Regions from separate parts of the Homo sapiens genome. Here region 1 is linked to region 2. Evidence: fine-mapped expression QTL. A gene starts in region 2. The other region holds a variant in brackets. All regions are shown on one strand. Distances are between the middles of the regions.

Region 1 (4,243 bases), 92 kb after region 2:
TCCATAGGTCAGAAATTTGATACAAGGGCTCTCCTGGCTGAAATCGGGGTGTCAGCAGGGCTGCCTTCCTTTCCAGAAGCTCCAGGGGAGAATCCGTCTCCTTGCCCACATGGGCTACTGGCAGAATTGTTTCATGCAGTTGTAGCACTGAGGTCTCTGTTTCCCTTCTGTCAGTCAGAGGTCCTTCTCAGCCTACAGAGGCTTCCCCCATATCTTGGCTCATGCCTTTTTCAACCCCAGAAATGAGGGACTTGAGTCCCTCTCATGCCTGTCCTTCCTTCCATCACATCATTCTCTGACCAACCATAGCCAAAGAATAGTCTTGACTTTTAAGGGCTCATGAGATTAGATTGTGTCCACCTAGATTATCCAGGATCCCCCATCCAAGATCCTGCACTTACTTCTGCAAAGTCCCTATTGTCATGTAATGTGACATATTCACAAGGTCCAGAGATTTGGACCTGGCAATCTTTGAGGACAGTTATTCTACCTACCACATAAAGCTTCTTTATTGGGCCAGTGTGGTGGCTCCTGCCTGTAATCCCAACACTGGGAGACCGGGACAGGAGGAGTTCTTGAGCAGGAGTTAGAGACCAGCCTGGGCAACACAGCAAGACCCCATCTCTACAAAAAGCAAAAAATTAGGCCGGGCGCGGTGGCTCACGCCTGTAATCCCAGCACTTTGGGAGGCCGAGGCGGGTGGATCACGAGGTCAGGAGATCGAGACCGTCCTGGCTAACACGGTGAAACCCCGTCTCTACTAAAAATACAAAAAATTAGCCGGGCGTGGTGGCGGCTGCCTGTAGTCCCAGCTACTCGGGAGGCTGGGGCAGGAGAATGGTGTGAACCCGGGAGGTGGAGCTTGCAGTGAGCTGAGATCGTGCCACTGCACTCCAGCCTGGGTGACAGAGTGAGACTCTGTCTCAAAATAAATAAATTTAAAAACTAAAAATAAAAAAATAAAAAATTAGATGCATGCAGCAGCACATGCCTGTGGTTCCAGCTACTAAGGAGGCTAAGGTGGAAGGATTCCTTGATCTCAGGAGGTCGAGGCTGCTGTAAGCTATAACTGTGGCCACTGCACTCCAGTGTGGGTGACAGAGCTGGACTATCTCAAAAACACACACACACACACACACACACACACACACACACACACAACCAAAAATCATTATGCTTTCCCCATAAAACTGCTTAAGTGCCTTTGTTGGAAATCCATTGACCATAAATGTGTAGTCTTTCTGAACTTTCTACTGTTTTCCCTGGATCTACAACAGGTCTATATTTATGACTATACCACACTGCCTTTGCTACTGTAGCTTTATAATATTTCTTGGTATGAGTAGTAGCTTGGTGCACTTTTCCAAAGTTGTTTTGGCTATGCTAGATCCTTTGTATTTTCATATAACTTCTAGAACTAGCTTGTCAATGTTTAGCCCTATCCCCACTCTCCCAAAAAAGGCTTCCTGATATTTTGGTTGGAATTGTGTTGAGTCTGTACATCAACCTGGGGAGAACTGATGTCTTAACAATATCGACTCTTCCAATCTGCTCAGTGTATCTCTCATTTATTTACATCTTTAATTCTCACAGCAACGTTTTGTAGCTTTCAATTACAGAGCTTGCTCATCTTTTGTCAAATATACCCCCAAGTATTTCATGTATTTGATGGTACTGTATATGGTGGTGTTTTCCAAATTTCCCATTCCAAGTGTTCATTCCTGGCATATAGGAATACAACTGACTCTTCTATATTGACTTTGTAGAATGCTACCTTCCCGAAACTCAATTATTAGTTCCAGTAGCTTTGTGGTAGACTCCTTAGGATTTTCTACATAGAGAAACATATAATCTGTGAAGAAAGCCTTCTTCCTTTCCACCCTGGAGGCCTTTTCTTTCTCTTGCCTTGTTGCACTGGCCAGAATCCACAGTGTAATATTGAACAGAAGGGAGAGGACACCTGTGCCTTGTTCCTGAGAGGGTTACTGAAAGCCCCAATTGCCACTGTGGATTTGTCTATTTCCCCTTGCAGTTTTATCCATTTTTCCTTCCTATATTTCCTGTATTTTGAAGCTGTTATTAGGTGCATAGGTATTTAGTATTGTTATATCCTTTTAATGAATTACCCCTTTATCATTATCAAATGACTCTCTTTGTCCCTTGCAATATTCTTTGCTCTGAGATCTCCTTTGTCTAATATTAATAGAGCTGCTTCAGGTTTATTTTGATG[T/G]GTGCGTTACCATGGTGTATTTTTCTCCATCTTTTCACTTTTGTCTTTATATTTCTCATAAGCAATAGTATATAGTTGTGTATGGCTTTATAATCCAGCCTAACAATATCTGTCTTTTAATTTTGCAGTAGGCAATTTGCTTGTTTTCCCTTGCTCGTGCTTTTTGCTTTTTAAGTGTAATTTTAGAGGATGCATGAGATTCCTCATGATATTTGTGCTGAGATGTAATTCACATGCCATAACATTTACCATTTTAAAGTATGCAATTCAGTTGTTAGTACACTTGTACAACCATCACGATTATCTAATTCCAGAACATTAGAATCACCTTCAAAAGAAACCCTATACTCATTTTCAGCCACTCCTTGTTTCACCCATCCCCCTCCTCCCCCCTCAAGCTCCTGAAACCACTGTGAATGGTTTCCTGCTAATCTCTCTATGGATCTACCTGTTCAGGACGTTTCATGTAAATGGAATCACACCACGTGTGGCCTTTTGTGTCTGCCTTCTTCCACCTAGCATATTGCCGAGGTTCATCCAGGTTGTAGTGTGTCAGCACTTCATGCCTTTTTATTGCCAAGTAATATTGTGTGGATTCACCAGTTTTGCTTACAGCTGATGAACATCTGGCTTGTGTCCACTTTTTGGCTCTTATGAACAATGCTATGAACACATTAGGTTTATGTGTGCAGATTTTTTAATTCTCTTGAGTATAGACCTAGGAGGAGAATTGCTAGGTCAACTCCTATGTTCAACATTTTGAGGAACTGCCAAGCTGTTTTCCATAAAGGCTGTGCCTGTTTACAATCCCACTAGCAATGTATGGGGGTTCCAGTTTCTCCACATTCTCCTAAACACTGCAGAGCAGTATATTAGTCCATTTTCATATTGCTATAAAGAACTGCCTGAGCCCGGGTGCTTTAAAAAGGAAAGAAGTTTAATTGACTCACAGTTCAGTGTGGCTGGGGAGACCTCAGGAAACTTACAATCATGGTGGAAGGCGAAGACGAAGCAGGAACCTTTTTCACAAGGTGGCAAGAAGTGCCAAGTGAAGTGGGAAGAGCCCCTTATAAAACCATCAGATCTTGTGAGAACTCACTATCACAAGAATAGCATGGGGGGAACTGCTCCCATGATTCAATTACCTCCACCTTGTCTGTCCCTTGACATGTGGGGATTAGGGGGATTACAATTCAAGATGAGATCTGGGTGGAGGCACAAAGCCTAACTAACTATATCAATCAGTTTGGGAAAGTTATCTTCCAATCCATGAACCTGGGACATTTATATATTTAGGTTTGCAATGCCTTTCAACAAGCTATTTGTAGTTTTCGGTGAACAAGTATAGCCCTTCTTTTGTTAAATTTATTCCTACATATTTCACTCTTTTTGATGCAATTGTAAATGGAATTATTTTCTTAATTTCATTTTCAGGTTGTTCAGACTGCTAGTGTACAGAAACACTGGCTTTCCTATGTTGAACATATATTCTGCAACCTTGCTGACCTCATTTATAAGTTCTGATAAGTGATTTTTTAAATGTGTAAATTCCTTAAGATTTTCTAGGTATAAATCATGTCATCCGTGACTAGAGAGTTTTGATTCTTCCTTTCCGATCTGGATGCCTTATTTCTTTTCTTGCTTAATTGTCCTGGCTCGTAACTTCCAGTACAATGTTGGAATAGACGTGGCAAGAGCATTCTTGTTTTGTTCCCAACCTTAGCGGGTAATGCTGTGGTTTTTCATCGATGCTGTTTATCAGGTTGAAGCAGCCCCCTTCCATTCTTATTTTCTATCTTGAAAAGGTGCTGGATTTTGTCCAATGCTTTTTCTGCATCTGTAAATCATTATGTGGACTTTGTCCTTTATTCTATTGATAGGGTGTATTACATTGACAGATTTTTGGATATTAAACCAACTTTCCATTCCTGCGATAAATCCCACTTTGTCAGTGTACAATCCTTTTTATATGTTGCTGGATTTGTTTTGCCAGTTTTTTGAGGATTTTTACAT
Region 2 (4,521 bases):
CTGATCAATCAGTAACAGATTTGGAATGGAATCTCCAGCCCCCAGTCTTTGCGCCCACCCTCTGGCAATATGCCGCCTCACGTGAGCATCTTTAAGACGGAGTTCCCTTTTTATTCCAGATAAAAGAATTAGGAGCCTTCTGGTAGAAAAGAAAGCAGATCTTCAGGATCAAGTCGCAGAGGCTGGCCAATCAGCCCAGCTTCTCATTTGAACTTGACCCAGACAGTAAAACAAACTTTACCATAAGGCGAGACTAACTTTTGTTATGTCTTTTCTATTCATTTCCTATTTCTGAATCAAATCTGAACTACTTTGTGGCCAATATACGACACCAGCTTCCGAGTGTGGGAATCACAGGATTTCAGGATTCAGCGGCTTCCGGCAGGATCCCCTAGGTTATGTTTAGCAATCTTCAGTTGCCTTTCCTTTTTTTCTTTCCTTCCTTTCGTTCTTTCTTTCTTTTTCTTTTTTTTTTTTTCCCAAAGGAAAGAACAAGGGAGCCCAGGCGGAACGGAAGTGAGTATCCCGACACGCGGATCTTAAACAGCCCAGACCACCAAGCCCGACAGGCCGGGAAAGCTGAGCGCGCGCTGCTGGGGGGACGCACACTTTGGAGGCTGTGTGGGCGCGCGCCGGCACCCCACAAGTTCTCATCCGTCTGCTCCGCCGATTCAGCCAGACAAAGACCGCAAGTTCCCCGGTCCACCGCTCCAGACAGGCGGGGACCAGTCTCCCCGAATTAGGCCCATTCCGGGCCCGGGCGCCCTCACTCGCCGCGGGGAAAAGTCCCCAGGTGCCCCTCCGTGATCCAGGTCCTCCCACAACGCTCCCGCTCCTGCTGGCGCCCCGCACCCCGAGGACGGCGGCCGGACCCCGGCCCCTCCCCGGTCCCGCGGCTGCAGGCCCACGCGCCCCACGCGCCCCGCGCGCCCCCGCCCCAGCTCCGCCGAGGGGGCGCTGCTCGCTGCGCGGTGGACCCCTCGGACCCCGCCCCCGCGGCCCCGTCCGGGCCCCGATACCCACCCGGGTCCCGCTGCGGGGGCCGGATTCGCGCCGGCTCCGAGAGCCGCCACCGTCGCCTCCGCCGCTGCCGCCGCCAGTGAGGCGCGGCGGGGCGGGGACGCGCGGGGAGGCCCGGCCCCCGGCCCGCCCCCGGGCCCGCCCCCGGCCCGGCCCCTGCCTGCCCCCGCCGGTCTCCCCGCCCACCTTCTGGCCCAGCCCTGGGCCCAAGCCTCTAGTTCCCTGCTGGCCCTCCCTCAGGCCTCGCCGCGTCCCGGCCTCGGGGACTGTGCCCCGTCCCGAGCCTGGCGTCCCCAAAGGAAAGGCAGGGCTCCTCGGACGCTCCGCGTGCGCGCTGGCCCTCCGCTGCCGCCCTCTGCAGGGAGATTTCTCCTATTTCGGACTAGGAAGGGAAGATACGCTCCGGAAGACCCCCCGGGCGTCCATGCAAGGAGTCTCCGTAGGACCCCTGGAGAAGGGCACCGGAGCCCCCTAGGGCAGGAGATGGAAAAGCGCTCGCCATGCGCGGGGTCCCCGGCCCCCGGTGCCCCCAGCCCGCCTGCCATTCCCGGGCGCTTAGCAGTCCGGGGTCCCCAGGTGCCCGGCAGGTCCCTTCGGGACCTCGAGCCGCCCGCTGGGCACACGCTGACGCCGCTGTCGCTTTACAGAAATTGAGCGCAGCCGAGGCGGGACCCGGGCGCAGAGAGCGATAAAGGAAAAGCATGGTCGTGCTCTAATCATTACAGTCTAAGGGACGACACGTCGAGACGGCGCGCGCCTCTGCGTGCGTGGAGATGGCACAAAGGCCGCGCCGCCCCCGGCGGCCCCCGCCCTCGCAGCGCGCGTGGTCCCGGCCCGGCCGGATGTTGACAGCGTCGCCTAGCAACGGGAAATGGCGGAACCGGGCGGCGCGGCGGGCCGGTAAGCCGGGCCGAGGGGCAGCGGGTCTTGGAGTCGCCAGGCCGCGCTCTCCGTTCACCGCTCCAGGTGGCCCCCGCGTCGGCTCCTGCCTCGCCCCTTCGCCTCCACTCCCCCTTCCTCTCGCCTGTGTCCCTTCTCTCGCCATTTTGCTGGCCTTTCCCGTCCACTGCGTTCAGCCCCTCACCCCCCCGCCAACCCTTCTCACTTCTCCCCTCCTGTCCCTTTGTCCTCTCTCGGCCTCCCTCTTTCCCCTACTCCAAGCGCGCGACTCCCTCTAAAACCCGGGACCGCTCACTCTGCAGTCACCATGGCAACCACTCTGCGTGGCGGTCCCTGCGCGCAGTCCTCCTAAGAGTAGAGGGCTCTGCAGGGCGCGGGGCTGTTGGATACCGCCCCTGACCTTGCTCCGGGGCCACTCGCTGTGGCCGGAGACCAGCCCGGCCCCGCGCCTCCCTCCTGCAAGGACAGATCCCCTCTCGCAGGCTTGGGGGTGACCCGCGATGGGAGGGGTCCCTGCGGTTAGGCGGCCCGCGATAGTCCGCGGTCACCGTCCTGGGGCCTGGGTGGAAGCACTGAGCGCGCACAGGGAGGGCGGCTGAGTGAAGATCCCTGCCACCGGGCCTCTGCTCGCTTAGGCTCTGTTTAAAAGGATAGAAACGATTGGAAAGAGTTTGGCCTTTTTACCTTAGACACATCGGTATTGTTTCATTTTTTTAAAGGTGGGTCTGTATGTATTGACATGGAAAGACTAAAGGTATTATTAATAAAACGATAGGCATAAATGTAAAAGGGTAGGTATACTATGATCTCTAATTCAGGGTGTGTGTGTGTGTTTAAAACATAGAAAAATGTTGAAAGAATGTGGTCCTAAATGTTATCAATGATTATCTTGGGAAGGAAAGGGAAGATCACAGGGAACTGTCACTGTCTGTCTCTTTGAACATATCTATATTCCTTTGACAGATAAAAATAGCTTGAATCTTTAATTTTTTAAAAAAGATATACATATATATATATATATATATATATTCCTGTGCTACGTAAATCGTGGAGAAACTCAGAGTCCCCAGAACACTTACTCTGATCGCGCTACTTTCTCTACGTTGTATTTCTTTTCCCCAGTTTTGTCCCAGACACAAGTTATATTTGAGGTGACTTTTCTGGGGTGATCTAATCCTGCTGTTCCTTCGATGTTTTAATAATTATATTTTTCATTCATTCATGGAGCTTTGCTTTTGTGGCATCTCCGCCACCTGACAGGCATGATATAGTGCTATGGTTCCTGACAAACAGGACAAAGACGTGACAACAGCCTGGGGGTGGCAGAGAAGTAACAAGTAAATAAACAGATGTGCAGAATTCAGGAGGGGATAAGGACCAAGAAAAAGAAAGCTGTTGCTTGAAACTGTTCAATTGTTTCTCTAAAACCAGGTCCCATCCGGAAGATGGATCGGCTTCTGAGGGAGAGAAGGAAGGGAATAATGAAAGCCACATGGTAAAATTCCCTATGGGCAGTTATTCCGGGCTTATATTTACTAGGAATTAAAGAGAATCAGAGTACGGGCACTGTGGCTCACGCCTGTAATCCCAACACTTTGGGAGGCCAAGGCAGGTGGATCACATGAGGTTAGGAGTTTGAGACAAGCCTGGCCAACATGGTAAAACCCCATCTCTACTAAAAATATAAAAATTAGCCGGGCGTGGTGGTGCGCACATGTAGTCCCAGCTACTCGGGAGGCTGAGGCAGGACAGTGGCTTGAACTCGGGAGACAGAGGTTGCAGTGAGCCAAGATCACACCATTGCACTCCAGCCTGGGTGACCAGTGAAACTCTATCTCAAAAATAAATAAATAGGCCGGGCACGGTGACTCACGCCTGTAATTCCAGCACTTTGGGAGGCCGAGGCAGGCAGATCACGAGGTCAAAAGATCGAGACTATCCTGGCCAACATGGTGAAACCCTGTCTCTACTAAAAATACAAAAATTTGCCAGGCATGGTGGTTCACGCCTGTAGTCCCAGCTACTCGGGAGGCTGAGGCAGGAGAATGGCTTGAACCTGGGAGATGGAGGTTGCAGTGAGCCGAGATTGTGCCACTGCACTCAGCCTGGCGACAGAGCGAGACTCCATCTCAAAAAATAGATAAATAAAATTAAATTAAAAATAAATAAATAAAGAGAATTAGGACTTGGTCAAGTATATTGTATGATGACATTATCTTGCACCAGAACAAACTCAATTCAGTTGAAGAGAGACTCATTTTCTTCCTACCCCATTCTACAGTGTCAGTGATTAGTCAGGGATGCAAAGGATGTCCAACTTTGGGTTGCCCTGAGTTTTTCGGAACTCATTTCCTGTAACAAAGGATGCAAAAATGATTATGAAAAGCAGAGAGGGCCAGGCATGGTGGCTCACGCCTGTGGTCCCGGCACTTTGGGAGGCTGAGGCGGATGGATCTCTTGAGGCCAGGAATTCAAGACCAGCCTGGCCAACATGGTGAAACCCCATCCCTACTAAAAATGGAAAAATTAACTGGGCATGGTGGTACACACCTGTAGTCCCAGCTACTTGGGAGGCTGAAGCAGGAGAATCGCTTGAACCCA

The links. PIP is the estimated chance that this variant, and not a neighbour inherited with it, causes the effect.
Region 1: its variant is the best candidate, but not a certain one, in a credible set for the expression of CCDC40 in gastroesophageal junction (GTEx, PIP 0.54).

What each region holds. Positions count from the first base shown.
Region 1 is chr17:80,126,525-80,130,767 of GRCh38, forward strand. No RefSeq gene overlaps it. Among named protein-coding and RNA genes, the nearest start is that of EIF4A3, 18 kb to the right of the region's middle. The variant T/G (reference allele first, on the strand shown) is at 2,231.
Region 2 is chr17:80,034,772-80,039,292 of GRCh38, forward strand. It overlaps CCDC40 (coiled-coil domain 40 molecular ruler complex subunit), which reads left to right and starts at 1,871. Exons shown (of 20, transcript NM_017950.4): 1 at 1,871-1,920; 2 at 3,352-3,415. The coding sequence starts at 1,892. It overlaps TBC1D16 (TBC1 domain family member 16), which reads right to left and starts at 1,101. Exons shown (of 12, transcript NM_019020.4): 1 at 1,024-1,101. RefSeq lists a silencer at 1,100-1,169 and enhancers at 1,360-1,479, 2,379-2,673.